4 linked regions of the Homo sapiens genome follow. The protein of the gene in region 2 interacts with the protein of the main gene of each other region in a pairwise test. Each region holds a gene or a part of one and is shown on either strand. Other genes may lie near its edges.

Evidence for each region.
Region 1: the proteins of YWHAG (region 2) and HOXC4 interact in binary tests that used the Homo sapiens proteins (3 or more experiments, as listed by UniProt).
Region 3: the proteins of YWHAG (region 2) and ZKSCAN8 interact in binary tests that used the Homo sapiens proteins (3 or more experiments, as listed by UniProt).
Region 4: the proteins of YWHAG (region 2) and WNK1 interact in binary tests that used the Homo sapiens proteins (3 or more experiments, as listed by UniProt).

The regions. Positions count from the first base shown.
Region 1 is NC_000012.12:54,049,292-54,056,532, reverse strand, and holds HOXC4 (homeobox protein Hox-C4), read right to left. Parts: upstream 2,699-7,241; 5' UTR 2,611-2,698; coding exon 2,172-2,610; intron 1,684-2,171; coding exon 1,328-1,683; 3' UTR 503-1,327; downstream 1-502. UniProt on the Homo sapiens protein: Sequence-specific transcription factor which is part of a developmental regulatory system that provides cells with specific positional identities on the anterior-posterior axis.
Region 2 is NC_000007.14:76,348,969-76,355,991, reverse strand, and holds part of YWHAG (14-3-3 protein gamma), read left to right. Parts: intron 1-7,023. UniProt on the Homo sapiens protein: Adapter protein implicated in the regulation of a large spectrum of both general and specialized signaling pathways. Binds to a large number of partners, usually by recognition of a phosphoserine or phosphothreonine motif.
Region 3 is NC_000006.12:28,136,985-28,144,887, reverse strand, and holds the start of ZKSCAN8 (zinc finger protein with KRAB and SCAN domains 8), read right to left. Parts: upstream 3,006-7,903; 5' UTR 2,859-3,005; intron 2,678-2,858; exon of another isoform or gene 2,625-2,677; intron 558-2,624; exon of another isoform or gene 464-557; intron 1-463. UniProt on the Homo sapiens protein: May be involved in transcriptional regulation.
Region 4 is NC_000012.12:748,242-755,584, forward strand, and holds the start of WNK1 (serine/threonine-protein kinase WNK1), read left to right. Parts: upstream 1-4,337; 5' UTR 4,338-5,324; coding exon 5,325-6,083; intron 6,084-7,343. UniProt on the Homo sapiens protein: Serine/threonine-protein kinase component of the WNK1-SPAK/OSR1 kinase cascade, which acts as a key regulator of blood pressure and regulatory volume increase by promoting ion influx.

The sequences.
Region 1 (7,241 bases), on a different chromosome or scaffold from region 2:
TTCTTTTAAGAACTCAAATGTTGAGGGGATGTCTTCCTTAATCCCTCATCCCAAAAGAGCCCTAAAAGATGAAAGAAAACTATTCTCCTTCCCACTCCCTAAACTTGCCCCCTTGTCTACAAAGTAGGCAGGCCTACTCAGCACAGAGGAGGGAGAAGGGAAGAGAGAGAAAAGACAAAAAGAAGAAACTGTACCTAACTATAGAAAAGTGAGACACTCCCCACCCTCAGCTCCACTGAAGTGCCCCCAGAGGAGTCTGGTCTCTCTGCAGACTCAGGGGGAAGGAAGGGGACTGGAGAAATCAGCCTTAATCTTCCACATCCCCTCTTCTGAAGATCCCATACCCCAACCCCCTTGCTTGTTCTTCTAAGGACATTGGAAGACTAATGGAGAGCTAAGATTTGTGTGTTTGTTTAAAGTAAACTTAGGCAACTATAGAGAAGATGGGATGTTACCAGGCCAGAGAGGGAGGGGAATAAAAAGAAACCATCAGACATTGACGTAAAACTAATTCACATCCACTGGTTTATTATTGATCACGGGGCATTTCACATCGACACTAAAATTCTTTATTGCAAGTTTTACAATAATCAAGTAAATTCAGTCCAAAAACACAATAACCACGATAGGGGTGGGGAGAGATTCTACCTATAGACTGCCTCTCTGAACTGAAAGTTCATTTTGATTTTCTTTTGGCTCCTCAAACTGAACAGCTCTGAGAGGCTCTCCAGATGCATTTAGCTTTGTCTGCTGTCTTCGCCCCCTCTCCTCCCACACCCCCCCCCAACAATAATACAAAAGAACTTCATAGCTTTGTTCTCCTTAAAATGACTTCCCCCTCACTAACCTCCCCTGGTGCATTTTCAATGCAAAAGGCCTAAGGAAAGAGGGGGGGAAGGAGGAGGAGGAGAAGGATGAGAATTGGCTTTAAAATTTCTTTCCTTTTTTCTTTTCCTCATTTCCCCTGAAATTCACCCAAGCCAGACCATCACACCTTGCAATATATAATTTTTGCAGCTTTTTTTCTTAAAAAATAAATAACCCCCCAAAATGGCCTTTTAAAAAAAAACACCCAGCAGGTACCATGCTAAGACAACATCACATGCTTAAAAGGGTCCTTAACAGTGGGAGGGAGAGGAGGGCAGGGGGCTTGTTTGTTTATCTGTTTTGTCTGTTTGGAACTGACAAGGGACAAGGTGAGAGGAAGAGAGAAAAGAACCTATATATATATATATATATATATATATTAAATTCTATAAATAAGAGTCAATTTGTGTGTGAGGGGAGGGTGGGGGCATGGGGTGGGGGCAGGGGTGTGAGTTATGTTTTATAACCTGGTAATGTCCTCTGCCCGTTGCTGCTCCGGCGGCGTGGCGCTCTGGGAGTGGTCTTCAGAAGTACCCGGGGTAGCTGCCGAAAGGGTGCTGGGCGCAGCGCCGGCCGGGGGTGCTGACCTGACTTTGGTGTTGGGGAGTCGGTGGTCCTTCTTCCATTTCATGCGACGGTTTTGGAACCAGATTTTGATCTGCCTCTCAGAGAGGCACAGCGAGTGGGCGATCTCGATCCTTCTCCTTCGGGTCAGGTAGCGGTTGTAATGAAACTCTTTCTCTAATTCCAGGACTTGCTGCCGGGTATAGGCTGTCCTCGAGCGCTTGGGTTCCCCTCCGTTATAATTGGGGTTCACTGGGGGGAGGGGAAAAGCAAATAGTGGGGTTCAGAGGCAGCAGGCTCCCCGCCCCCCACCCTCACCCCATCCTCAGCTCTGAGAAACAGGAGGAGGGAGTGGTGGAAATAAAGTCATCAAGCTTAAATGGGTTATAAAGAAGTTGAAGGAAGCTGAAGACTTTGTAGTGTAATAAGAGGGGAATCCTCATTGTAACGACACTGAATTATTTATGCGCCCTTAGAAAGCGAGCATAGTTTTCACACATACATAACAGATCGTAGCACATGGCTCGGACTGCCCAGAGTAGCTAAGCCATAAAATTTATGGGGGATGTAATTACCCATTCTCGCTCGTAAATCCAGTTCAATTGTGCTAACCCAGAGTCGCTCCTGGAGAGAGAGGGGGAAGGAGAGAAAGGAGGACGGGGGCCAGAGGGGGCCGAGGAGGGTGGGGAGCGCTAGGGAAGAAGGGAGGGAGGGGGGGAGCAAAAAGCAAAGTTGCCTACCCGTGCTAACGTGAATTTTTTTCATCCATGGGTAGACTATGGGTTGCTTGCTGGCGGCGCTGGAGGGATGGTCGGGGGCTGGCTGGCTGCAGGCTGGCGGGGCTGGGGACGGGGAGGCGGAGGCGCCTGAGAGAGGCGCCGGCTCGCAGAGCGACTGTGATTTCTCGGGGTGGTGGTGGCCCGCCTGGGCCGGCCCGTGGCCTCGCGAATTGCCGGGCCCCTGGAGACTGGTGCAGCTATACTGGCGCTCAGGGTAGCTAGGGCGCGGAGGCGGTGGTGGGTACAGCTCCTGGTGGTGATGCTGGAATCCCGATTCCCTGGTCCGGCCGTAATATTCCGGACTGTGTTCAGGGATGTAGCTATTTTGCGAATATTCTTCGCATGGAGGAAATTTCGGATCGATGTAGTTAGAGTCCATCAAATACGAGCTCATGATCATTAATTTCTGGAGTGGAAAATAATTTTTCTCGCTTTGTCGTTTTTCTGCTCCATAAAGCCCTCCTACTAGCTAGCGACCCTGTAAAGTTACTTTCACCATGTGACTCCTCCGGCCAATCACACGGAGCAACCCAGTCCCCGGATAAGGAACCGAATCGCTTTATTCAAAATGTATCCAATTTTTTTGTGTGTGTGGTGGTGGTGGTGCTGGGAGGCGGGGGTGGGTGGTGATGTGGGGTTAGCTAGCAGAGGTTGGAGTGCCCCCAGTGCACATCCCGCCAGACTGACAACCCTCCCCTGCAAAAGGAGATGGGAAGCTCCCGGCTCCCCTCCAAAGCCCGGGCATTGGGGGACTGTCGGGAGGCAGTGATTCAGCCCCCGCCCAGGGTCTCCCCTCAGGCCTCTGCTGGGCCCCGTGGGCCTCGGCTCCTGAGCTTTTCCAGAGGTCTCCATTCATGGCGATCGTGTCTCAGTCTGTGTAGGTCACGGGGCAGCGCCCCTCTTTCGCAGGAAGAGGAAGTTGAATGAGGACTGGAGTGGATGTTGGATGGGGAGGGGCCCAGGCTGAGCCGAGGAGGCTGGAGAGCCTGGAGTGCCCCCCATCCAAGGATACCAGAGTCCAGCCCCTCTTCCCCATACACACTCACCCAACCCTCTGGCCATGCGGCCGGCGAGGCAGGGTCCCAGCTGGACCAGGCAGGTAGAGGCAGCGGGATGCAAATGATTCTGACGTCATTTCTGGAGGTCTGGGGGTTGAGCCCCCGCTGAAGAGAGACAGGAAGTGGTTGGCAAAAGCAGAGTTCAGAAGTCTCGCCTTCCCCTGCTACCCACTGACCCTCCCTGCCCCAGCCCCAGAGCAGAGGATCTCTTCTACTGCTGGCTTCTGTTTCCACTCCCCATTCAGCCCGGCCTGCTATTTTCTGACAATTATCTCCAAGGAGCTGGGGCAAGGAGGAGAGCTTTCTGCCAGGAGTCAGTGCCCTGTGATGGTGCCCAGCCAAGATCCTGAGAGTTCTTTCTCTGTCCCCACAGAGGGCAGACCTAGCTAAGAGGGAGGCCTGTGTGGGTAGAGCCTGCTTGCTTCTGGCTAGGAGCTGTATCCATGTAACACGTGTGTTTACATGTAAACACGAATTCCTAAAGGCCAGCTCCAGGCTGCTTTCCAAAAACGGAAGGCTAAGCTCACCAAGTTGGGGAGGCACGGCCAGCCTTTGGGGTCTCCAGCCCATTCACACCCCCTGCTCTCTCTCTGCCACCCACTCACAGTAATACTCTGATGGAGGGGGGTGACAGGGCCGTAGAGGAGGGAGGGGGCCAGGAAAAGCTGCTTTCCTAACCACCACCCCCCCCCCCCAGCTAGGGGTGGTCCTGTCATGCCACCGATTCCAATTAACTGATCGCCCATAACTCAGAGTTGCGGGGGGTAGCGGAGGGGAGAGCCCAGGGAGGGAGCCGGGTCCCCTTGTTGTACTTGATAACAATTATAGTTTAAAATCATAGCTTGCCAGGGCTCAGCTATATTTTACTTGATAACAATAAAAGTGACACATAAAGTTAACTGTTTATGTTTTATTTATTAGACTAAATCTGCCAGCGGTGGTAGGAGCGCTTGCCTCGTCGCTACAGCTTTTATAGGGCTGTAAAACGTCATAAATCAGTCTCGCGGAATCGCCCGCACTCTTTGTGTCGGCGGCGGCGCAGGGCTGGCGGCCGCTGGCTGCCTGCTCCCTCCTTTCCACGAAAAGTCGTAATGTGATTTTTTTTCCCTCTGATTTTATTATTATGATCGCCGCCGTGATTAGTCAATCTACCTTTAATTCGCCGCCCTACGCTACCTCCTCCCAGCCCAGCCTGGTTGACACTTGAATAAGTACCTTTTAAAACGGCATAACAACTATTTGAGGGTTTAATTAGAACATCTGCAATTAAGGGAATGAGGAGGGGAAAGGGAAAAAAAAAATAAAGCCCTTGTGAGAGGGAGACTGAAGGCAAGAGATTCCAATCCTTTTCTCATCACCTTTGGGATGTTGGAGAGGGTCCCCACTTCCAAATTAGGGCTTCCCCAAAGGGCTGGAATGAGAGGGAAGCTGGACCCACAGCCGTGCCCAAAGGGTGCGGATTCCCGCCTGGGCCCTCGTTGCCTTCCCTCCTCCAATGCTTAGGCCCCCAGCCCCACCCCAGGCTCAGCAGGGCCAGGGCTTAGCTCCCAAGGAGCTGGTGCTTGGTGGTCCCTGAATACTCTCTCTCCAAGAGGACAGTGCCCATCCCCACTGTAACCAGGCCAGGTGAAGGAACAGGAGTTCCCCAGAGGCTGAACACCTCTAATGGAGATTCCCAAATTCTCAGAGTTGGCTGAGAACCCTTGCCCACTCTTGTCCGGAACTCTCTGCATGTGAGGACAGGCTGGTTTGGTTGGAGAGGAAGTTGAGACTGTGAGTGAGGGGGCGGAGGAAGGCTACTGCTTGGTTAATAGTGGTTTGGGTTGTGTGGGGTTGTCTTAATCATTGGTGGTGGGGGTGGGTTCATTATAAATTGCTGGAAGAGGGCAAAGGGAAACCAGTGCTGAATCCTAGTACCTAAGTCTGAACTGTAGTCCCAGATGGCTCCACCGGGAAGTCCAAAGCTCAGCAAACTTTGGTGCCATGTGGAGAGGGTTGATGAAGAGGGAGGAAACCTTCCCGGCCCCACTCCCAGTCTCCCTTCTAGGCCTGTACCTGGATGCGGCTGCCTCACCTGGAAAGGTGAGCTGTGAGCCTGACTCTCATCCTCTCAGCCCTCACACTCACCTTTTACCATCCGTGCCCTGACGCTAACCCTCTTTTCTTCAATCTTCACCCTCCTGTACTTGTTAAGGAGTCCTCCCCAATATGTTGCCTGTCACATCCCACCCCCGCCAGGTTTCTGAGCTTCTGCAGGGGGGTCAAGGAGACTGACTTTGGGCCAGTATAAGTAGTAGACACAGAGGGTTCAGATGCCCCCAACTGAATGTCAAGTCTGTCTTTGGTTATTATGGTTAACATATATGCGTGCACACTATTAATATTTATTAATATATTAAATGCCTCTTTATGCAGCTATAAATATGTAGAGTTTTCATTCCAGGTTCGTGCAGCTAATTCAACATGCACATCCAGAAAGTGAAATCTCCAAGATTCCCCCAAATGTGCCCACACTCATCTACATCATTTACAAAACAACAACAGCAACTCTCTTTGGGCTCCTATAGCTTAATAGCAAGGAAGTCGCCTGTCACATGGGTAAAATACCACACACATACACACAAACATTTTCACCTGGATATTATTACAAGCACAGAAATAAAATCCGTTGGAAGGGCTTTTGCACTTAGCAATGGCTTAATTGGGAGGGGGTGGGGGTACTAAAGCAGCTCTCATCTGTGATGAATCCTTGTATCTGGTCCTGTCTTCTTTTGTGTTTCACCCTCCTGCCTCCCGCCTTGCTGGCCCAGGGGCTGCACCTCTGCCCTGTCCTCAACCTCACTTTGCCCCAGTTTTATTTATTTTTATTTTTTCTGACTACCTTTTGCCAGCATCCAAATGCTCTCTGCAATTGCCCCTCCACCCCATCTCCTTTCTAAATCTCGATTTGGTTTCTCTTTCGGAAACACGTTTCAGTACAAAGCGCTTCCCTTCTGACATCGCTGAAGAAAAATATGTGTCCATTGTGTGTGAGGCCTTATTGTGCCTGGATTACCATACTGACCGTTGGATAACCCATATTCCTCCCCTCCCCAGTAACAAGCTGCCGGCTGAGAGAGCTCAGCGGCTCCATAGATTCTCTGCTGCATTAAAATCGTACCCCTCTCTGATTTTTCCAAGGGAGAAAAATAAATGGGTGAACCAATTCAGGATTTGGAGGGCAAAGGGAAGGAAAATGAGGGTCATTCCTTTCCCTACTCTTTGAAATGCAGGGTTTATGTGTGTGAATGTTGTTGTTGTTGTTGTTTTAGGGATTAAAAATTGCAACATTTCTGTTTCCTTTCACTCATATAAATTGAATTTTAGATGGTATGCAATCAGGCAATTCATTTCACTTTGATTTTTTTTTCCTTTGGGCAACTTGAAAACCCAAAACTAAATCAAGGCTCATAGCCCATTTTTTTCGTGTGTGTGTGTGTGTGTGTGTGTGTGTGTGTGTGTGTGTGTGTGTGTGTGTATGTGTTTGTCCCTTTCTAATGCCGGCAGCCAGGGCTAATGTATGCAAAAGAATATGCAAATCTTAATTGATTTTTTCTTAAATCTCTTGTCAGTAAAAGTAATGAATTGGTCTAAAATGATTTTAATAACCTGGATGTGTCACCAGAAAATACTCAACCTTTTTTCTTCTCCTGGAATCGCTTATAGTCTCAAAAAAAAAAAGCAATCATGGAATGTTAATTTGCCCCCCTTTAAAATATTAAAGATGAATTTCTCTTGTTTGTTTGGAGACCTTAGGCAAGGTCCTCTCATGGATTTCTCTTGCCTTGCCTTGCCTTCCTTGGAATTCAATTTTCCTCAAATCTCGTTTAAAGTGGCTTTTTAAAAAGTGGCCGCATTTTAATATTGGTTAGACAGAGTGACCTGCATTTCACCTCGGGTGTTTGACTTGTTCCAATAGTTCACTGCCATGGGG
Region 2 (7,023 bases):
ATTTTGAAAAGAAGGAAAGAGGAATGTTAGGTCTTTTAAGACAGATGTTTAGTCTTGTATTGAAGGAGAGTGAACACCTAGATGTATCCTACGTATTAGACAATACTGTCTTGTCCTTTGACTTTTACTAGTCTCTTGAGAAGTTAATATTTTAAATAGGCTACTGGTACTTGCCTTGGGGAGAAAAGGTTCAGGGTTACTAATTTTGTTGAAGTTACTGAGTTAAGCAGTTTAACTCAATGAGGGGTGGGAGGGCAAAGGTGGCAAAAGGCTATCATAATTTTTCTAAATATTCCTAGTGGGATCAATAGACTTTCAAATTCTTTCTATCTTAAATATTCCATTCCCCCTCCCCCCCAGGCTCTTCCAGGAGATCAATAGCTATTATCACTAATGGAGTAATGGTACCTCTGTAGACTCTTCAGAGGTGGAGTTCTGCCAACCATTATTCTAAGTCATGTGGCTTGAATTGTTCTCTTCTTGGGCGTGGAAAGAATACAGATCATACAGCTTGCCTTTCATGTGTTAGCCTTCCCAGTAACTGAAGCAGATATTAAGTGCTTTTTCTGATTATTTTGGAAATCTATGTGTTTTTTGAATTCTACTGAGATTCAACATGGCGCTAAATGTTCATCCTCATTGCAGTCCTGGATTAACTGCAAACCTAAGAGTAGGATTTCATCTCTTGTACTCAGGGAAGCCTTATTTATTAAGCCAATCTTTAAATTATTGAAAAGAGTGGAGAAAACGATGTGTTTTTATCGAGGTAAAAGTTGCGTAACATAACTGTCACATAGTCACATCAGATTTCAAGTGCAATTGAGTGGCATTGGGTACATTCCGTGTTGTGCAGCCATCACCTATGTTGAAGAAGAGAGAAAGTGGTTATTTTTAAAAAGTGATGCCGGTCTGGACTACAGCTGGCTGGAATTCAGCACCTATTCAGGAATGTGTCGATAATGGAGTGCCCACAACAGCTCACAGCCAGCGATAATTGTCTATCCCTTTGTCTTCATTTCCAAGCGTCTGAACTGAAAAAAGGGAATTAGCTTTAGCTACGTTTGTACTGTATTTCCACTTAAAAAGTTATGGAACTTGAACACTGTATAATGTTCACCCAAATAAATAAGAACAATTTACTTGAAATCTGAGCAAATCGTTAACTCTTTGGGGATTATGGAAATTTTGCTGGTGTTCTAGTGACTCGTTTTCAGCCCTAAGGCTGGCTTTATTATCAGTGATTTGCCGCCTGTGTGGTAGTGGTTTCCTAATGAGTAGGATGCAGGGTTGAGACTGGGGAGCTCCTGCAGCATGAGGCTCTTAACTGATGGGACGCCAGCACAAGACATTCAGTACATTGTGGCTGTCAGGAGCTGGATGGGAAAAGTAGTTACTTTTCCCTTCTTTGCCCATTCCCAATATCAGCAGTCCTAACCTTATTTTATTTTATTGTATTTTATTTTAATTTTTTTGAGACGGAGTCTTGCTCTGTCACCCAGGCTGGAGTGCAGTGGGCAGTGGTGTGGTATCTCGGCTCACCGCAACCTCTGCCTCCCAGGTTCAAGTGATTCTCCTGCCTCAGCCTCCCAAGTAGCTGGGATTACAGGCACCCACCACCACGCCCAGTGAATTTTTGTAGTTTTGATAGAGACAGGGTTTCACCATGTTGGCCAGGCTGAGCTCGAACTCCTGACTTCAGGTGATCTGCCCACCTCAGCCTCCCAAAGTGCTGGGATTACAGGCGTGAGCCACCGTGCCCAGCCTCAAGGACCACTTTCTATGCTCGGTAGTCAAAGGGAAATACTACTTTTAAATGATATAAAACGTTATCTTCTCTTTGCCTTCTTTTGAAAGTTACTTAGTGTTTTACCAGATATTCCAGTCTATAATTATGTGTGCGTTTGATTGCTTGTTTTTTGTTTTTTTTTTTTTTGAGGCAAGGTCTCACTCTGTCACCCAGGCTGGAGCATGGCTCACTGCAGCCTCCACCTCACAGGCTAAAGCGACCCTCCAGCCCCAGCCACCCAAGTAGTTGGGACTACAGGAGCATGCTACCACACCTGGCTATTTTTTTGTACCGTTTTTTGTAGGAACGGGGTGTTGCCATGTTGTCCAGGCTGGTCTTGAGCTCCTGGACTCAAGCAGTCTGCCCATCTTGGCCTCCCAAAGTACTGGGATTACAGGTGTGAGCCACCACACCCAGCCCGGTCTATAATTATAATGCAGCTAAATGTTGCCTTTCTACAAAGGCTACCAATACCAGCTGCCTTATGGCCTCTCCTCTCAGAATTATTTTTCTGTATCTTCCCCAAATTCCATTTTAGGTGTCAGCTATCATTTTGATTAACTACCAAAACATATTATTTTACTTAAAATTGTCATTTGTAGAAATCTTGAAAATTTTGATATTTTGCTAAATGAATTTATGAATTTGAGTGGTAGAAAATTAGTTACACGAAAACTGATTTAAAAAATTCCCTGGGTCAGGCACGGTGGCTCACGCCTGTAATCCCAGCACTTTGGGAGGCTGAGGCAGGTGGACCATGAGGTCAGGAGTTGGAGACCAGCCTGACCAACATGGTGAAACTTGTCTCTACTAAAAATACAAAAAATTAGCTGGGCATGGTGGCATGCACCTGTAATCCTAGCTACTTGGGAGGCTGAGGCCGGAGAATTACTTGAACCTGGGAGGTGGAGGTTGCAGGGAGTTGAGATTGCACCACTGCACTCCAGCCTGGGTGACAGAGCAAGACTCCATCTTGAAAAAAAGAAAAAAAATTCCCAAAAGAAAGCTTTAATTTTAAGGTAAATAGTTATAAATAATTGGTTTGCTACCATGATTTTGTAGAAAAAATAAAAATTGTAAATCTTAAAAGACCATGTGCATGAGTCTTTTCTTTCTGTTTAAAGAACTGGTGAAGTCTTAGTTAAATTGCTCCCAGCATTTCACTTGTTAAGTGTGTGTCCTACAGAAATAGACTTTTCTTTACCTGAGTTGAATACTACTAATATGTGCTGCATGGCATTAAGTTTTGGTTATGGGCCGGATGTAGTGGCTCACGCCTGTAATCCCAGCACTTTGGGAGGTCGAGGTGGGTTGATCACTTGAGGTCAGGAGTTCAAGACCAGCCTGCTCAACATGGTGAAATCCCATCTGTACTAAAAATAACAAAAATTAGCTGGGCATGGTGGCGCATGCCTGTAATCCCAGCTACTAGAGAGGCTGAGGTAGGAGAATCACTTGAACCCAAGAGGCAGAGGTTGCAGTGAGCTGAGGTCATACCACTGCACTCCAGCCTGGGTGACAGTGTGAGACTCTGTCTCTAAAAAAAAAAAAAAGTTTTGGTTGTGAATAGGAAAGAGAGTGTTCTTACATAATTTAGATTTTTAACATAACATTAAAACAATAAAATTATTCCAAATAAACTCTTGGGCTTCTTAACCTTTGGAAGGGTACCTGTCTTTGGAGAGAGAAAGCCCATTTTGGTGAGTGGGACCCAGGTACCCAGCTTTCCTCTGAGCAGGGGTGTCCGAGTTGGGAGTATGACAGTGACAGCAGTGGCCAGCTGAACACGTAATGACAGTAGCTGAAGAGGAGTCACTGATCCACCCCCAACCTGCCGCAAGCTGAGTATGAAGAGCAGCTGCCGTGGGCAGGGAAGTGAGGAATGGCTAAGGGAGCGAGGGGAAGGCTTTAAAAAGCCAGGTTTCTTTTGAAGCCGTAGAGATGATTTACATTTCTTGAGCTGTCTGAAAGGAATTACTCATATGACTCTAAAGCTACCATATTTAAAAAACCCAGATCTGGGAAACAAAATGCCTATGGTGCTAGTTCTTTAAGAATGTAGAAATCAGCTTGAATTTTTGACTGTTTCTATACAGACTGCTTTTGTAGCAATCTAACATGAAGCAGTGAGCATGTCTTTGCAGTGGAGGTGCAGCATAGTGAGTAGCCATGCGGATAACCCCATACTCATTGGCAGTATGTTATAATGTGAGGGCCCGCCTGGCCTGGGTAGGCTAAAGAGCAGTGGTCCCCAACCTTTTTGGCACCAGGGACCCGTTTCATGGAAGACAGTTTTTCCATGGACTGGGTGGGGTGAGGGGTAAGGGGATGGTTTGGGGATGAATCAAGCACATTGCATTTATTGTGCACTTTATTATTGCTACATTGTAGTATGTAATGTAATAATTATACAACTCACCGTAATGTAGGATCAGTGGGAGCCCTGAGCTTGTTCTACAATTAGATGGTCCCGTCTGGGGGTGATGGGAGACAGTGACAGATCATCAGGCATTAGATTCTCATAAGGACCATGCAGCCTACATCCCTTTTGTGTGCAGTTCACAGTAGAGTTGGCACTCCTTTGAGAATCTAATGCCACCGCTGATCTGACAGGAGGCGGAGCTCAGGTGGTAATTCGAGCAGTGGGGAGTGACAGACTTCCTGCTCTGCAGCCAGGTTCGTGACAGGCCATGGACCCGTTGGGGACCCCTACTATAGAGAATAGATGTTATTATTTTCAAACCTTCACATTGGGTCTTGTATCTGTGTAATAGAGGTTAAGACTGGAAGTTATTTTTCCTACTAGGTTGAAAAGACCCTACTCAGAAAGGCGAGAAGAATGAACAGGAGAGGAGAATACGAACAACAGAAAAGGGCATTCCAAGGCGAGGAAAGCTAGTGGGGACAAGGGAGTAGGGAAGGAATATTCTAGAATATCTTGGATCTTGGAATGCCATGCCTATTTAAGGGAGTCTGTAGTCTTTGGAAGGCTGTGAACAATGGGATTGACTACTGAAGACAAAAATGTTGGTGGCCTTTCAGGATGCTAGAAATTTCGGGGGGAAATGACAAGAAGAATCACCATAATGATTCACATGCAGGGATATTTCCATCGTGTCTTTTTCTACAGTTTATATTCTTTTGCACCTTGCTTTTTTCACTTGACATCATTTCAATGATATTCTGTCATTATTTTCAGTAGCTGAATAATCCTGTGGATATATCATAATTTAATTATTTTTTTGCTTAGTATTCAGGCTGTTTCCAAATTTACATTGTAAATAATATTGATGTGTGGGTATAGATGGTCCCTGATTTCAGATGGTTTAACTTAACGATTTTTCTTTTCTCTTTTCTTTTTTTTGAGACAGTCTTGCTCTATTGCTCAGGGTGGAGTGCAGTGGCGCGATCTCAGCTTACTACCACCTCTGCCTCCTGAGTTCCAGCGATTCTCCTGCCTCAGCTTCCCAAGTAGCTGGGATTACAGGCATGTACCACCACGCCCGGCTAATTTTTGTATTTTTAGTAGAAATGGGGTTTCCCCATGTTGGCCAGGCTGGTCTCCAACTCCTGGCCTCAGGTGATGTGCCCGCCTTGGCCTCTGGAAGTGCTGGGGTTACAGGCATGAGCCACTGCGCCTGACCTTAACCTGACAATTTTTCAACTTTATGATGGTGCAAAAGCAGTAGGCATTCAGTAAGCTCCTCCACTTAGGATGGTCATGTCCCCATAAATGAGTTGTACATGGAGGAGTATCTGGTATCTTTCAGGCACAATTCGTACGTTAAGACAGACCCAAGAGGGGAATTGCTGGAAAACCAGCTAAGAATAATGTTTAAGGTCCTCACTAGTACAGGACCTTGAAAGTTTTGAAAGATGTGTTTGAATAGGTATTATGTATACATGTTTCAGAATTCAAAAGGCACCCATTGCCCTTTGTCCTCTAGGAAGGAAAATGAGGTTGAAGCAGGGGTAGGCTCGATGCCAGCTTATTTGAGGCAAGGGCCCATCTCCCTTATGCTTCTTTGGAGTGATTGCCTTTTTTTTCCCTTTGACTAATGGAAACTTTCAAACATACAAAATAAAGACAAATAGTACAGTAACCCCCGTACACCCAGCTTCACCATTTTTCAGCACATCGGTCTTTTATCTGTATTTTCTTACTCTTCTGGCCTCCTCGGGGATTATTTACCAATTTGGAAGATGGCTTTTTGGAGACAGTCTTGCTCTGTTGCCCAGGCTGGGGTACAGTGGTGCAATCTCAACTCACTGCAACCTCCCCCTCCTGGATTCAAGCAATTCTCCTACCTCAGCCTCCCCAGTAGCTGGGATTACAGGTGCCCACCACCACGCCTGGCTAATTTTTGCATTTTTAATAGAGACCAGGTTTCACCATGTTAGCCAGGCTGATCTCGAACTCCTGACCTCAAGTGATCCACCTGCAGGCATGTTTTTGTTTTTCATCGTTTGCTGGCCATGTAGAAAAAGACTTCAGATGTTTGGAACTTGATCTATTTATTGAGGAAGGGCAAACAATATGGCACAACTTCAAACAAAGCTATCATTAACAGATTAAATTTTTACAACTTACATAGAATGTATTTCTACCAACATTATTTGGAGCTGTGGCATGTAGATTCTCAAAAACACTTGCTGAGTGAATTACAACTACCTGTTACTTTCATTTTTTGGTACCCTGTTGCATTTTGATCTTGGTTTTCTCTTTTCATCATCTGGCTGTGTGTGTGTGTGTGTGTGTGTCTGTGTGTGTGTGTGTGTGTGTGTGTATTAATAAATGATGACCAAAACGCGTCTGGACCGCAATGGAAAACTTAACGGTACTTTTTGGTATTTTTTTTTTTTTTTTTGAGACAGAGTCTGCTCTGTCGCCCAGGCTGGAGTGCAGTGGCGCGATCTCAGCTCACTGCAAGCTCTGCCTCCCAGATTCACGCCATTCTGCCTCAGCCTCCCGAGTAGCTGGGACTACAGGCGCCCACCACCACGCCCGGCTAACTTTTTGTATTTTTAGTAGAGATGAGGTTTCACCGTGTTAGCCAGGATGGTCTCAATCTTCTGACCTCGTGATCCACCTACCTCGGCCTCCCAAAGTGCTGGGATTACAGGCATGAGCCACCACACCCGGCCGGGAAGACGAGATTTTTTAAATTACACACTTAGATGAAATATTGTAATATAGTTTGACGTTTACTGTCACCTTGGGAAGCATTTTTATGTAC
Region 3 (7,903 bases), on a different chromosome or scaffold from region 2:
GATGGGGTTTCACTGTGTTAGCCAGGATGGTCTCGATCTCCTGACCTCGTGATCTGCCCGCCTCGGCCTCCCAAAGTGCTGGGATTACAGGCGTAAGCCACTGTGCCCGGCCTAAAATCATTCAACTCTTAACTCTAATTTATCTATTACCTTTTTCATGAGTTCTTCTCTGTCATCCCCCTGCCATTTGTCATTCCTACCAAAGCATTTTTAACATGGTCCAAATATAGGACTTATCACATTGTGAGAATGTGGCCATGGCCTTATTGCAAATGTTTGTTGACAGAGGTGACCATTATCTTTGTATTTCAAAGATACTGTAGAGAATGAAGAAGAGTGTAAGTAAAGGTAGCATACCCTAAACCAGTTGTCATGAGATGCTAACATCAAGATAAAACCAGAGACCTATAGTCCACAAAGAAGAGATAGGTACTTAGGAAAAAAATCAGATTACTGTACATACAGTTCCCCATACGGATCATCAAGGCAGTGCTTATCTTTTCAGTTTTTGGAGTTGTGGCACGGGGCGAGGGGGGTTGGTTTATAGACTCTTCAACCTAAAGAAAACACAGAACTTCTTTCCAGCAAAATGTCCACAGATACAAAATTGTATACTCAATTTCGGCAGAGTTCACAGACTCAAAGGCCATCCAAGAATGCCAGGAAGGTTAAAAACAAACAAACATACAAACAAATCCTACATAGAGAGTGTGTACAGAAAAGAAAGGGAATTTGAAAATTATTTTTCAAGTTAGACAAGGCCGGGAACAACAGGGTGGAGAGTAAACTACAGATCAGAAGAACCAAGGAGCAAAAGATATGGTTAAATATATCAATTAACATTGGGGGTATAGTTCATTGATTATGACTTTACAGGAAAGTGGAGGAATTTGCTAGAATAGTGAGATTTGGGGGAAGAGTGAATTTGAGGAAGATGCTGAGATTTTGTTGAGAAAGGGTAATCAATTTGGTTTTGACAATTTGTTTTTGTTTGAATAAATTATCTATAATTTTAAGATAATTTATTTTAAAATGGTCTTAGCTAATTTTAAAATAATTTAATTTTTCAAATCAAAACAAACTCTTAAATTTTCTTAAAATAGCTACTTATGGTTTAATGTTAAAAACTTAAAGGTCAATACATGGGACATAAATTCTGTTTAGAATGTGATGTTATATAGTGGTAGTCTTACCATGTTTTCTTATAAATTTCCTTAAAGCCAAGGTTCATTTTTAACTACTGAACAACTGGCCATCTATTACTGAGCAATCCTCATCCATAATGGCTATAAAATATTATTATTATTATTTAGGGACAGGGTCTCACTATGTTGCTCAGGCTTGAGTGCAGAGTCTATTCACAGGTGCAATCCCACTACTTACCAGTACAGGAGGCTATAAAATATTTTAATGTGAAGTGCGCAGCATTCAAGAACTTTATATTGTTGATGTGGTATTAAAAAGTCTCAATAACAACACTGATGAAAACCAGCTAATTATCAGGTTTGTTCATTTTTTATACCAAATCAGCCAACAGGTCTTGCCCATTGCTCATCTTGATTATTCTATTTAGTGGCTAATTTTCCATTTTTTTAAGTCTCTTCCCTCTCTGATCAGCTGGTTTTTGAGAATTACAACCTATAAATAACTGAGTGCAAAATTACTCCAGTATGTACCTTCCTCTCAGTTTTGTGCGTACATGTCTGTATTAAGTTGGTGAGCACTTTGTGGATACAGACTGATTTTTACATAGTCTCCTTAAAGAACACCTAGTCAAGTTTACATGAGTTTAAAAGGCAATCTTTAAAGCTTCCTCTGGATTTTAAATACTGTAATCCTGTGAGATGCTGAAGGCACAACTCAATTTTAACAGTATTATTTTTTCAATAGTTGTGGAAGGAATGTATTCTTCCTTCAGACTATGTCTAATTTGAGAAATGTTTGGGAACTGAAAACAAAACAAAAAAGACATTTTCCAGGATTTAAAATCCAAGAAAAAGTAGGTGAAGCCAATACTATGCTTTGTTATCTCAAATTGCATTAGCTGAAAGTTTTAATTAACATCTATCACATTTTACATTTAAACAACAGAAATTCAAAACATGTATGTATTTGCTAAAACAATGATTGCTACGTAAATATACTCAACGGAACTAACAAACAACAGAAATATGTTTTTAAAGGTGGTGGTGGCAGTCAAAGTAGCCTGACAAAAATTACTCATGACTAACCAGAGTTTTGGAAATGGGGCCCTCCCAGAGTTCCTCGTTGGCTAACTTCAGTTTGCTTTAACAAATGAAATAGGCATTCTGATAATGTTGAATTCTGAATTACCCTGAAATTAAAAAAAAAAAAAAACTTTCGTACAATTATCTAGTCAACACACCACCAGTTTCTGAATACACTAAAGAAAGAAGAGTAACAGCAAAAATTGGTTTCCATGGATAAACGGGGCTTCCAAAAGCAAAATATGTCTTTTTTAAAAACTGAGAATTTTGTTGTGACCTAAACGCAAAAGAGCGCTAAGTGAAAACAATTCAGACTCTGGAAATAGTTGGATAAAAAATAACATGGGGGGGGCGTTCCCCATTTTAAGATAAACAAGATCGACTACAAAAACATACCACAACACGATTATCTATGAAGAAAGCTTCATAAAAGGTTCCCTCGCAAAAAGTTCAAGGGCAATTCGTGGGGACGTACTCTGCCTGCAACAGCAACTAAGGCGTCAGAATCGGTCCGCGGCGCCGAACACCGCACAGGCCCCTCTCCGGACCCCTCAGGCCAGTCCTCAGCTGCGGCCTGGACCAGCCACAAAGCACCCACTTTCCTCCGGCCCAGAGCCCGACCGTACTCACTGTGAGTTGCAGAGGCGCCCCGTCGTGGGGAAGGGAGGCTGCAACGGATAAACAGACTCGAAGGAAGGTCGGGGAGTAAAGGCGATGAAAGCTGTACTCGGACCAGGCCCCTCCGGCCACTAACTTCTAAATCTGCGGAGGCACAACACCGGCCAGCACGCATCTTGCCCCAAAGGCACTTCCGGAAGCTCTCTAGGAGTCCTGGAGGTCTACAAGCTCTATGGTCGGCCGACTGAGGGTACCGGAGTACCACGCCCCTCACCTGCTGTGTGCTGTGCCTCGGGTTCCTCCCGCGTCTGCGTGCCTCAGGCTTGCGCTGTCGCTGGGGCAGTGAACGTGCTGGGGAATAACGGACCTTGGTGTCCCCTCCGCCTTGTGTGCCCATGCAGCTCCGCGCGCTCGCTGTCAATAGTAACGGTCCCCTGGGGGTAGATATCGGACGTGGGGAGGCTGGAGCTGTGAATAGGAGGCTGGGAAAGTGTTGGAGGAGGGAGCACTTCATGGATCCTTAGGATTCCAACTGGATTCGCGTTTGGCTCCGTTACATACCCTGTACTTTACTGTTCTCGATTCATAAACATATCCAGACCTCTCACATAGAGTACAAACTTCATGAGGAATTCCTGCTAATCACAGTTCATAGTTTTGTGAAATCCCTATGGCATGGCACTTAGGAATAGCATATTTTATTAAGTATTCAAAAAAATCGTAATTAAATATATATTCTTTTTGGATCTTTACATATTTCCCACTCTTTCCTATCTTAATGAATTTCTATCGCTTACAGCATCTGCTTTGCTGCTTAGCTGTTTTAATGCTAAACCTATGATGTAAGCTTGAAGAGTAGACCCTAGGTTTAATACCACAAGATATGGGGAACAAATCTATGTTCATTCTTTCTTTGTTAGTCTTTTTTTCTTTTTTTGCCTTTTTTTTTTTTTTTTGAGACAGGGTCTCTATTGCAGAGTGTAGTGGTGTGATCATAGCTCACGGCAGACTCAACCTTCTGGGCTCAAGCAGTCTTCCCACCTTAGCCCCCCAAGTAGCTGGGACTACAGGTGTGCACCACCCTCAGCTTAAAAAAGAAAATTTGTAGAAACGGGGTGGCGGGGCGGGGCGGGGGTCTCACTATGTTGCCCAGGCTGGTCTTGAACTCCTGGGCTCAAGTGATCCTCCTGCCTCAGTCTCCCAAAGTCCTCGGATTACAGGCATGAGACACCACCCTGGCCCTGTGTTCATTCTTTACAGACCTGTTGCATTAGAGCTTTTTAACTTTTGAGACTAATAGGATTTCAGGGGTGGAGGTTGTGGCAAGTGTTATTTTTTGTTGTTTAAGTCTCATGTATTTATTTCCTTCAGCACCTTTCCCAACCACCTATTATTGAGTTCTCAGGGCTCCTCCAATTTTCACCTTAATTTCCCTCTTTATCTGCTCCTGCTGGTAGCCACCACCAACATTTCTATCCCTTCCCAATTACTAACTCCCCAATATTTTGCGTACTGACAAAGTCGTTTTGATTTAAGGGTTTTGTCATCTAATTATCACATGAAAACAAGTAAATAATAGTAAACACTGGGAAGCTACAGTGCTTCTGGACTCCTTCAAAGTAATTATTTTTGCTTTTTATTTCACAGCTGTTGCTTTCCACCTGGGATGGTAACTGGAAGTAACTGGTGACAGACTAGAACTCTACTTTCAGTTTCTTTTTTCACATTTTAAAAGTAACTTTTTTGGCTGAGCGCGGTGGCTCATGCCTGTAATCCCAGCACTTTGTGAAGCCGCGGGAGGATCACCTGAGCTCAGGAGTTTGAGACCAGCCTGGCCAACATGGCAAAAACCCATCTCTGCAAAAAATACAAAAATTAGCCAGGCATGGTAGTGGGCTCCTGTAGTCCCAGCTACTCCAGAGGCTGAGGCGGGAGAATCGCATGAGCCTGGGAGGCAGAAGCTGCAGTGAGCTGAGATCCTGCCATTGCACTCCAGCCTGGGCAATAGAGCAAGACCCTGTCTCAACATAAATAAACAAATAAATTTTTTTTAAGTCTGAAGTTGTGCACATATGTAGTTGTACAAATTCAATGTGCACACAACTATGACTGCACATACTATGTACAAAGTTGTGTACACATAGGAAGTAAAATAGCGTCATGCCATAGGTAGTTTTCTCAAACTGGACACACAGACACTGATTGTAATAGATAAAACTGATAAATTTGACTTCAAAATTTTAAACTTAAATTCTCATCAAAATTTAAATCTTCTCAAAAAAAGCACCATTAAGAAAGTGAAGAAAAAGCTACACACTGAAAAATATTTGTAATACATCTATCTGACAAAGAACTATCCAGAATATATAAAGAACTCTCACAATTTAATGAATAAGATAATTCAACACCAATAGGCAAAAGATTTAAACACTTTCTTTACAAAAGATAAAAGAATGGCCAGTATGCACACTAAAAAGTAACCATTATTCATCAGGGAAATGCAAAGTTAAAACCTCAATGAGTTACCACCACATATCCGTTAGAATGGTTGATAATATCGCCAATTTCTAAGTTATTCAGGCTTGAGAGGCTTCCTTAGTTTACTCAATGAAACATGGAGATAAAGGAGAAATTATCAGAGCCAGATTTCTCCTTTGAAGTGTTACTTTTCTCCATTAATATAACCACCATCCTCAGTTCTAATTACTTCACACCTATGTGACTGCAACAGCCTTGAGATAGCCTTCCTAACTATACAAGACGTGGTCCTTAAATATCATTATCATTCTTCCAATCACTGACCCTGAGTGGTTCCTTATCTCTAAGTAAAATTTAAACTTCTATGCTTGCCTTTTATTTTTTGTATTTTTAAAAATAAATGAAACATGATAAAGATTAATATTATATAAAATTCTTAAAAGCTGACATCTCCACCCTCAAATAGTATTTACCTAGAATGTTGGGAGATAATTCTTTAATGGCTTCTCAAATTACTCCTAGTCTTATGGTAGATTTTTCTTTGAGGTTAGGTTTTCAAGGATGTTTGTATCTCCTTCTAGATCACAGTTGTTTCCTGACCAGGATAATAAAGATAATGGCTCATTCTGGGGCAAGGCTGAGCAAAGGTTGGGCTTCCTAAGCTTGGCATTCCTCTGCTAGGTTGCAAACCCACTGTTCCATCCTAGCAGGGGAATGCCAAGCTTAGGCCCCTCTGTGGGCTTTGGGAACATAAGCTTTGGGAACAAGGGAATATAAAGCTTATGATGCCTGTGTTATTAAGTAATAAAGTCTTCTGTCTCTGACGCAGGAGTCCAGTGTCTTCTGTTAGTATCCATAAAACTGTGGCAAGTTAAATTGTTAGCTTGCAAGTAGGGTAAAAGTTTCACAATTTTCAATATGGGGTAATCACTGTTAAGTTTGGAGTGCATCCTTTTCTTGTACAAATACCCCACAAATTATATCTATATAAACAAATTTTTTCAACAAAAATGGAATATATATTGTTCTGACACTCCTTTTGTCATTTGAACGGTTGAAAGGTATTCCTCAATAGCATATGTCATATGTAATTCTTCCGCCATTGATTTACATTGATAAACAAGTGTTTTCCTTTTTTTCTACCACTAGCGTCCTGTCTGCCTTTTATTGCCTTCCAGAATGACCTTCTCCCTATCCCATACCCCTGGTCATAATTCCCCTGTACCCCCAAGTCAAAGGACTTATCTCATTGCTCACTACTCAATCTAAACACTCGTCTATTATTCTAATAACCCCCTCTCAAGACTTTATTATTCGATTTTGCACTGATCACATTCTGTCTTATATTACTTGCTATGTTGCATTTGCTGTCAATAGATTAAAGCTTCCATAGTTGAGGTGTCGGTTCTGAGATCTCCTTCCCAGTTGCAGTAAGTGGCAGCCCTTGAAATATGCAGATGTGCCATACATTTCTGACAGGAAGAGTGGTTTGCCTTTTTTTGTCAAGTAGCTAATCAATCTGATTCATCCTCTCCCTGCAATTCTAGTCTTATTCAATAATTCCTTCTGCTTAGGTAGGTCCTCATTCACCCATGTACTTATCAAGCACCCACCATGTGACAGATGCCAAGTGAGGTGAAAGTGCTGGGATGAGCACCTCTGTGGATCTCACAATGACCATCCATCTTTTGCATCCTTCTTGGTTTTTCCTTTACCCAAGTCCTGCACTTCACTCTTTACCCGTGCTTCAGAAAAGCGGAAGTTGGTTAATTAATTCCATTTGTCTAACACGGATGAGAGTGACAGCAGACAAGGGGAAAGGCAGGGAAATTCCCTTAGACTGTTCTTACATGCACTCTCACACTTAATAGTCAAAGCCACCCTATGAAATAGACACTACGTTATTAGCCTGAGTTACATAAACGAGTAAACAGAGGCTTGGAGAAGTTAAAAATAAATTGCCCTCAGTCCTAACTGGAGAGTGGTGGAGTCAGAATTTGAATCCAGGTTTAAAGAATTCTAGTGCCGGCACTCTGCACCTATTTCTCTTTGGACACTCATTTCCCCTAAGGATCAGAGAAGCTCAAAGTAGGCCACTTTTCGTCTCCGTAAGTCCGCAAGGTCCTGCGAGATCACAGTGAGCAGGGCACCAGCAAATACAGTCTGCGACCGCGAGACGTAAAGGGAAGAACGCTCCTCGGCACCCCTCCCCAGTCTATCCTAAAGTCAAGAACGTCCGAGCCCGCCTTTCTCCGGGGGCGGGCTGCAATAAAACAGCAAAATCCTCCATTCCCCATCAGCGGTCGATTGGGGGCTCTTTCGAAGCGGCAGCTCTGTAGGACCGCTCTTCTACCCCAAGATCCCTCGGCTTCGGCCCCCTAGGTGCCAGGGTCTGCGGGACCCCACGCTCAAAGCCGCCGGCCGGGGTCGACAACTGCAGAGAGGGTCGGGATAGGAAATTGCGGGTAGCGGCAGATGCGGGTCCCCAGGCATCCCGGAGGTTCCCACAGGTCTGCAGTGGGCCTACTTTGCGAAAAGGGCCCGGCTGCGCCGAGCCTCGTTCAAATCAGATGCCAGAC
Region 4 (7,343 bases), on a different chromosome or scaffold from region 2:
TAGACCAGGCGTGGTGGTTCACGCCTGCAATCCTAGCACGTTGGGAGGCTGAAATAGGAGAACTGCTTAAGTCCAGGGAGTTCAGACCAGCCAAGGTAACATAGTGAGACTTCATCTCTACAAAAAATTTAAAAATTAGCTGGACATGGTGGTGCACACCTGTGGTCCCAGCTACTCGGCAGGCTTGAGCCTAGAAGTATGAGGCTACAGTGAGCTGTGATTGCACCACTGCACTCCAGCCTGGACAACAGAATGAGACTCTGTCTCAAAAAAAGATAATTTTTCAATTTTATGAGAGAAAATATTATATTTTAATCTGCATTTTGCTAGTTACTGAGTTTCAGCATCTTTTTCATGTCTATTTTTGTTATTTGCATTTACTGCTTTATTTTATTTTATTTTTTTTTCTGAGACACAGTCTCGCTTTGTTGCCCAGGCTGCAGTGCAATGGTTCAATCTCGGCTCACTGCAACTTCCACCTCCTGAGTTGAAGCGATTCTCGTGCCTCAGCCTCCCGGGTAGCTGGGACTATAGGCGCGCACCACCATGCCCGGCTAATTTTTGTATTTTTAGTAAAGACGGGGTTTCACCATGTTGGCCAGGCTGGTCTCGAGCTCCTGACCTCAAGTGATCCTCCCACTTAGGCTCCCAAAGTGCTGGGATTACAGGTGTAAGCCACCATGGCATTTACTGCTTTGTAAATTATCTTTTCATATCCTCCTTTTCTATACAGTGGTTTGCCTTTTTCTCAGTGATTTAAGAGGGTTTTTTTCCCCCCATATCTTTTGGATATTAATCTTTTGTTATACAGTCTCCAGAGTTTTTCTGGCAGTTTGTCACTTGTGTTTTGTTGAATAGATTATCAATTTTGATATTGTCAAATATTTTCCTTTGTGGCTCTTGGATTGCTCTTTGAAGCCCTTTAGTACCCTATGTTCTCCTACATTTAAAAAATTATTTAGAGATATTTTTTAAAAGTTTGGTTCTTCAATTTATGTGGAAATTAATTTTGTGAACAGTCTGAAGTAAACACTGACCTCATTTATTTTTCAAATGAATAACTAATTGTCCAAGCACTGTTTATTATTTTGCCCTACTGACTTCAAATGCCATTTTCTATATGAAATTCCCATACATACATGAGACTGTTTCTGTACTCTCTCTTCTGTTCCATTGCCTATGCTTATCTCAATACCATATAGATTTAATTTTATGGTTTTATAATATACTTTGATATAGGGAAAATCCCACCCCCTTTATTTCATTTATAATATAAAGTTCTTAAAAAACTATTCTTCATTGTTTATCTGCCTGATTCTCACTTCCTACTTCCAGATGACAGGGTTCCAGACGACAAAGAGGTAAAATAAAAATTACCCATAGGCAAGACAAAGGAGCATGGGAAAATGAGGGAAAGGAGACAAAAAAAAAAAAAGAGAAATGCTCTTAAGGTGGGACAATTTTTCCCCTACACTTCAAGAAGCAACTTTATGTATCAATATTTTGCCACATTCAAAGTAAGGTAGATTTTGTGTGTTTAGGATATTTCAGCCACTGTCTAAATCAAAGGTGTCTCTGACTTTCATTGCTAGCTAGTTACCAATGGCAGAAACCATGTAAACAAAAAAATGTGAATGGAAGGGAATAGAAAGAAACATGAATCAATCAATGTGAGAACATGAACAAGAACTAGAGAGAATAGAGACATGGTGAGACAGAATAACATACTTGTATTCTTCTTGTGGAACCAAATGTAAGGAAGTCAAACCTCTGAGCTTAGTGCATTCATTGTATCCTGGGTTCTTTGTTATCTCTGTTTACAGTCACTTGATGTTTTATATGGAACATAGAGAGGTTGATTCTTTACTGGATAATTGAAGTGACAGAGAAAGGAAAAGTACTATTAGGAATTATAGTAATGAGTAACAGAAAATACCATTTACTTGGAGGTAGGTTGGTAAGCATTAAAAAGAACTGAGTGAGCTGGGATCAAGCCACTGTACTGCAGCCTGGGCGACAGAGTGAGCCTCTCTCAAAACAAAACAAAACAAAACAAAAACTGAGCAAAAAAGTGTTTGTTAGTAAAATACGCACACTAAATAATATAACCTTTAAATCTAATCATTGTACATAATAAGATTATATTCAACTTAAAATTGTATCTGTTTTCATTGTAAAGCTAATATTACACAAGTGGGAAAAGCTGTCTCCTAGGCAAGTGTGGTTTTAAGTCAACAGTTAATTAAATTACTTACAATGAATTTAGTTGTTCCTGGTTGAAAAGACATGTTGATAGGGCATGGTGATTATCAAGGGACTTGTGTCCAATGCAGTGTGGCCAAAGTTTCAGGGCTCAGTAAACAGGAACAGGCAATAATAAAATCCTTTAACAACCACTCACACAAAAATATCCTAATTTTTTCATGGTGCCAAAAGGGAACATTGTGATTTACTGATCTTCTTTTAACTTGCCAATTTGTAATTAGCTGCCTTATGTTTAAAATCAGACTATTTTTCCTAGTGAAGCAACAATTGGGTAAGTTTTATTTTACTCAAAAGTACAATAAAAATGTATTTTACAGCCATTTCTTCCCTTGCTTACATTAGGTTTACGGTTAGAAAAACACTCTTAATTCCATTTGCCATAATGAGATTATTTACCATTACCAATAGCAAACGAATGAAAGATACATTTTCTAAAGCAATGGAACACTAATATTTTAGTACTCTAGTTGTCCCTGCTGAATCGGCATTTTAAAATGTTCGTAACCTGTCAGCTTCATGAAACCTAACGATCATTGGTTTAAAACATTTTTGTAAACTTGAAAGTGTAGCTTGTGATAAACAACAAAAAAAGAAAGAAAAGAAAAATAGGGTTAAGTATTTTACGTATCAGATGAATTAACATGAACTGCAGGGCAAGACTTCTGTAGGTGGAGCTCATCCGATAACTGTGCTAAGGAACCTCCTGCCGAGTTCCTTGCTAGCTGCTCGCTCGCAGCGTGGTCCTCGGCCCCGACGCGCGCTTTCGAGCTTGTTCCGCAGCGGGCGCTGAAGAGAGGCGGCCGCGTCCGGACGCTCTGATGCGGTTGCGTACGTTTTCAGCGCTTCCCGCTCTCCACCGGTTGGACTGAGGCTTTTAAACTGCAGTCTGCTCCCGAGTCCGGCTTCCTACTCGGTCTGGTGCCCCCTGGTGCTCGTCCCCTCCACATCTTGAGTAGTTGCGAAGAGCACAGGGGTCCAGGCAGACAAGGATGCTTTCAAGAAAAACATTCCATGGCGGCAAGCCGCATGGATCCACATTTCCCGGGCCCAGAGCCTTTGTAGACATTGCATGTGGACATTCAGGAGCTCTAGAGAAAGAGGGGGTGTTGTTTCACGAAGCCACCAGCAGAAGAAAGGTGGAAAATAAGTTTCAACCAACTACAAAGGCAGAAGTCAGCCCAGCCCCCCAAGTGTGGTCAAAGACCCATAGATCCGTAGACCTTATCTTTTCTTGAATCCACCGCTCCCCCAACCCCCCTTTTATTATTTTTCAGACAAAGCAAAGATAGAGTTCACTAGGATCCCCGATTTCAGTAAGGCAGCCCTTTTTTGAGAGCCAGAATATCCGTCTCGGCCGGGAGCTGAGAATGTGGCCTTAATTGATGAGGGGAGGAGGATGGAAGGTAATCCTCCGTGTCTCCTCCTCCAATCCGTTTAATCAATATTAATTTCATGCACAATCTTCACAAAGTTTCTTTTCCCCTCCTCCGACTCAGAGCTCAGGCTCCGGTTATCCTGCTTTGCCCTTCCCTTCCACCCTCACAGCCCTGCAGTCACTCAACACTACTGAGGCTCTCTCCATTAAAGATGAACAACAGATCATTTTTCATTGCATGGCAACCCTAAGAGCTCTCTAGCTTAGCAGAGCATGATGGGAGTCTTTCCATCCCCCCCCCCACCCCCCGCCCGCTCGTTCCTCTTCTTTTTTTTTTTTTTTTCCTTCCTTTCCTTCTTCCACAATTAATCCCTAAATAATGATTTTCCTAAGCTCGCGCGGACTTCGGGATGGGGTTGAGCGACCCGTGATGACGCTCCCATCAGCCTTTCAGAAGGGACGGTTTCCAAAGAAAACTACAACTCCCACGAGGCATTAGGCTACAGCAACCGCAAGGCATCACGGAAGTCGTAGGCACTTTTCTTCTAGGTCCCGTTCATCCCCGCCAACCCGTAAACTATAAGTCCCAGGGTGCCTCGGGGCTAGCACGCCTGCGCAAAAGCCCCGGAGCGAGTTGGGGGGTGGGGCTGCTCCGGGCGGCGGGGGGCGGGATCCGAGCGGGCTGTGTGGAGGCTTCAGACTCCCGGCGCCATTTAGCGCGGAGAGTTTCCCGGGTGGACGCGGCTCCTCTCTCGGCCACTCCGCACCCCCATCTTCGGTGACAGAAGGCGCCTGGTGGGGGTGGCTGCTCTTTTCTCTCCCTGTTCCCCCTCACCCAGTCCTCTAGGTCTCCTCTCCTCTTGCCTCAGAGAAGCAGCGGAGCTCGGGCCCCGCGGTGAGCGGCCCTCCCCTCCCCGCCGTTCCCTCCTCCGTCAGCCCCCGGCACCGGCCCGGGAGGAGACGGGTTTGCCAGGCCTGGGGCGGGCGGGGAGGCCTCGGGGAAGGGGGGGCCCGCTCCTCAGGCGCCGAGGCTCCGAGGCTCCGGCCCTTCGCCTCTGGGCGATGGGCGACCTGTGAGGCCGGTCCCCATCGCTGGGGGCGCGTGTGGGAGGAGGCGGCCGCCCGAGTGACCGGGAGCCGGGCCGCGGCCTTCCCTCGCCCGCCTCGGCCCCTCCCACTCCTCTGCCCCGGGGCCGCCACCGCCCGGGCGTCGGACCTGGTCCCGTGCTCGCGGTGCCGCCGCCCTCTGGGCCTAGCCCGCCCAGCTCGGCGAGCGGCGGCAGTGGGAGCCGCGTCCGCCGCATCCGCCTCGACTCGGTGCCGGCCCCTGGCCCTCCCCTCATGACTGCGGCGCCTCTGCTGCCACCGCCCGCCCGGCCGCCGCTCGCCGCAGGATGGATGCGGACCGTGCGGCGCTAACCCCCGTGGCTCAGCTCCCGAATCGCCCGCCTTCGAGCCCTCCTCGTGAGCCGCAGCAGCCTCGGTGCCAGCCCCCGCCGCAGCTGGGCCCAGCGGTCCGCCTGTCCCTCGTTGCGGCTTGTCGGTGCTGAGTGAGGCGTCGTCCGGGTCGGCGCGAACCCGCCCGGCCGCGGTTCCCTGCAGACCTCTGCGCGGGCGGCTCGGCCCTTCACGCCCTTTTCGTTCACGAATCCGAGCCCGCTCGCCTCTCTCCAGCGAACCGACCATGTCTGGCGGCGCCGCAGAGAAGCAGAGCAGCACTCCCGGTTCCCTGTTCCTCTCGCCGCCGGCTCCTGCCCCCAAGAATGGCTCCAGCTCCGATTCCTCCGTGGGGGAGAAACTGGGAGCCGCGGCCGCCGACGCTGTGACCGGCAGGACCGAGGAGTACAGGCGCCGCCGCCACACTATGGACAAGGACAGCCGTGGGGCGGCCGCGACCACTACCACCACTGAGCACCGCTTCTTCCGCCGGAGCGTCATCTGTGACTCCAATGCCACTGCACTGGAGCTTCCCGGCCTTCCTCTTTCCCTGCCCCAGCCCAGCATCCCCGCGGCTGTCCCGCAGAGTGCTCCACCGGAGCCCCACCGGGAAGAGACCGTGACCGCCACCGCCACTTCCCAGGTAGCCCAGCAGCCTCCAGCCGCTGCCGCCCCTGGGGAACAGGCCGTCGCGGGCCCTGCCCCCTCGACTGTCCCCAGCAGTACCAGCAAAGACCGCCCAGTGTCCCAGCCTAGCCTTGTGGGGAGCAAAGAGGAGCCGCCGCCGGCGAGAAGTGGCAGCGGCGGCGGCAGCGCCAAGGAGCCACAGGAGGAACGGAGCCAGCAGCAGGATGATATCGAAGAGCTGGAGACCAAGGCCGTGGGAATGTCTAACGATGGCCGCTTTCTCAAGTTTGACATCGAAATCGGCAGAGGCTCCTTTAAGACGGTCTACAAAGGTCTGGACACTGAAACCACCGTGGAAGTCGCCTGGTGTGAACTGCAGGTAAAGCCCCACCTACTTTATTTGACGGTCCTTTGGATCCCAAATTTGGCTCGGCGAAGCCAGTTGATCGAGTTCACCCTTCACTTGGCATTCTCTGTTGGACTCCGAGTGGGACGGGGAGGCCAACTTTTGAAAGGGGCTGAAATTAGGAGAATGTGGAGCATGTGCCTAGGTGTTGGGATAGGATAAGAATTATTGGTAGCCAGAGGGATTTGCTACCGGGCAGCGGTGGTGAAGGTCATCTTAGTACAAACGAATTGTCTCCTGGTTTAGAGTCTGGCAGGAAACTTGGAATGAGTGGGGAAGTTGAAAGTACAGATGCTTCTTCTTCTGTGCATTTCAATCTCATCAAAGGCTCTGCAGTGATGAGCTGCGTCTGGGTGTAGAAGCGTGTTTTCATTCCTGAGATCAGGCTGTTCTTTTTAAATGAGAACAACCTTGTACCTTTGGATGTATTTTGCTTGATGGTTGCACAGGCATTTAGTATAAAATAATTATTAAAAAAAGACTCTTCTCTGCCCCTTTTGGATGTTTGATGTTGTTCTACCTAATGATGCTTAAGCCTTACAGTAGCAGCATTGCTCTGACGTTCATTAAACTAATGTCTTTCAGCCCATTCACTATACAGCGAATAGTATAGGAGCCCATGCAAAATTGTGTAAGTGCTTTGAGAGTCGTAATGTCATCATCATTGTTTTAATCTTATAAAATATCTTTAAGCTGAACTTTCCCAAGAGTCCGAAGGAGTCGCAGCACTTCCTTTTTTAACCTCTAGTGGTGTAAATAATGGTGTGTCATTCCGGTTGACTAGTACATTCTAGGTTTAAACAGCTGAGTTTGGGCTACTTGTTGCTTGACTTACTGAAGCAGCTTGCTTAAATATTGCCCTGATTGGGCATAGGTGAACATAGGTTATTAGTAGGAGCAGGTTTATGCTGAAGGAAGTCAGCCACATTATGCATGCATAAAAATTGCCATTATTGATATAGTAATCTTGCCAAGAATATAGACCAGCCTGATACAGGATATGAAAATAACTGAATGATCTTGGAACTTATTTTATCCATGAACTAATATGTTAACACGTAACCCTTTGAATGTCAGGTTCCAAATAACTAAGGCCATATCAAATGTGAAATTAACACAGCATGTGGAAGTAAACTTAAAAACTAAGAAGTTCTTTACAAACATAATCATTTCTTAACTTTTACAGTTAATGATGTAGAACTTCTAAGGTAGTGTGAAATTAAAACTACTCAT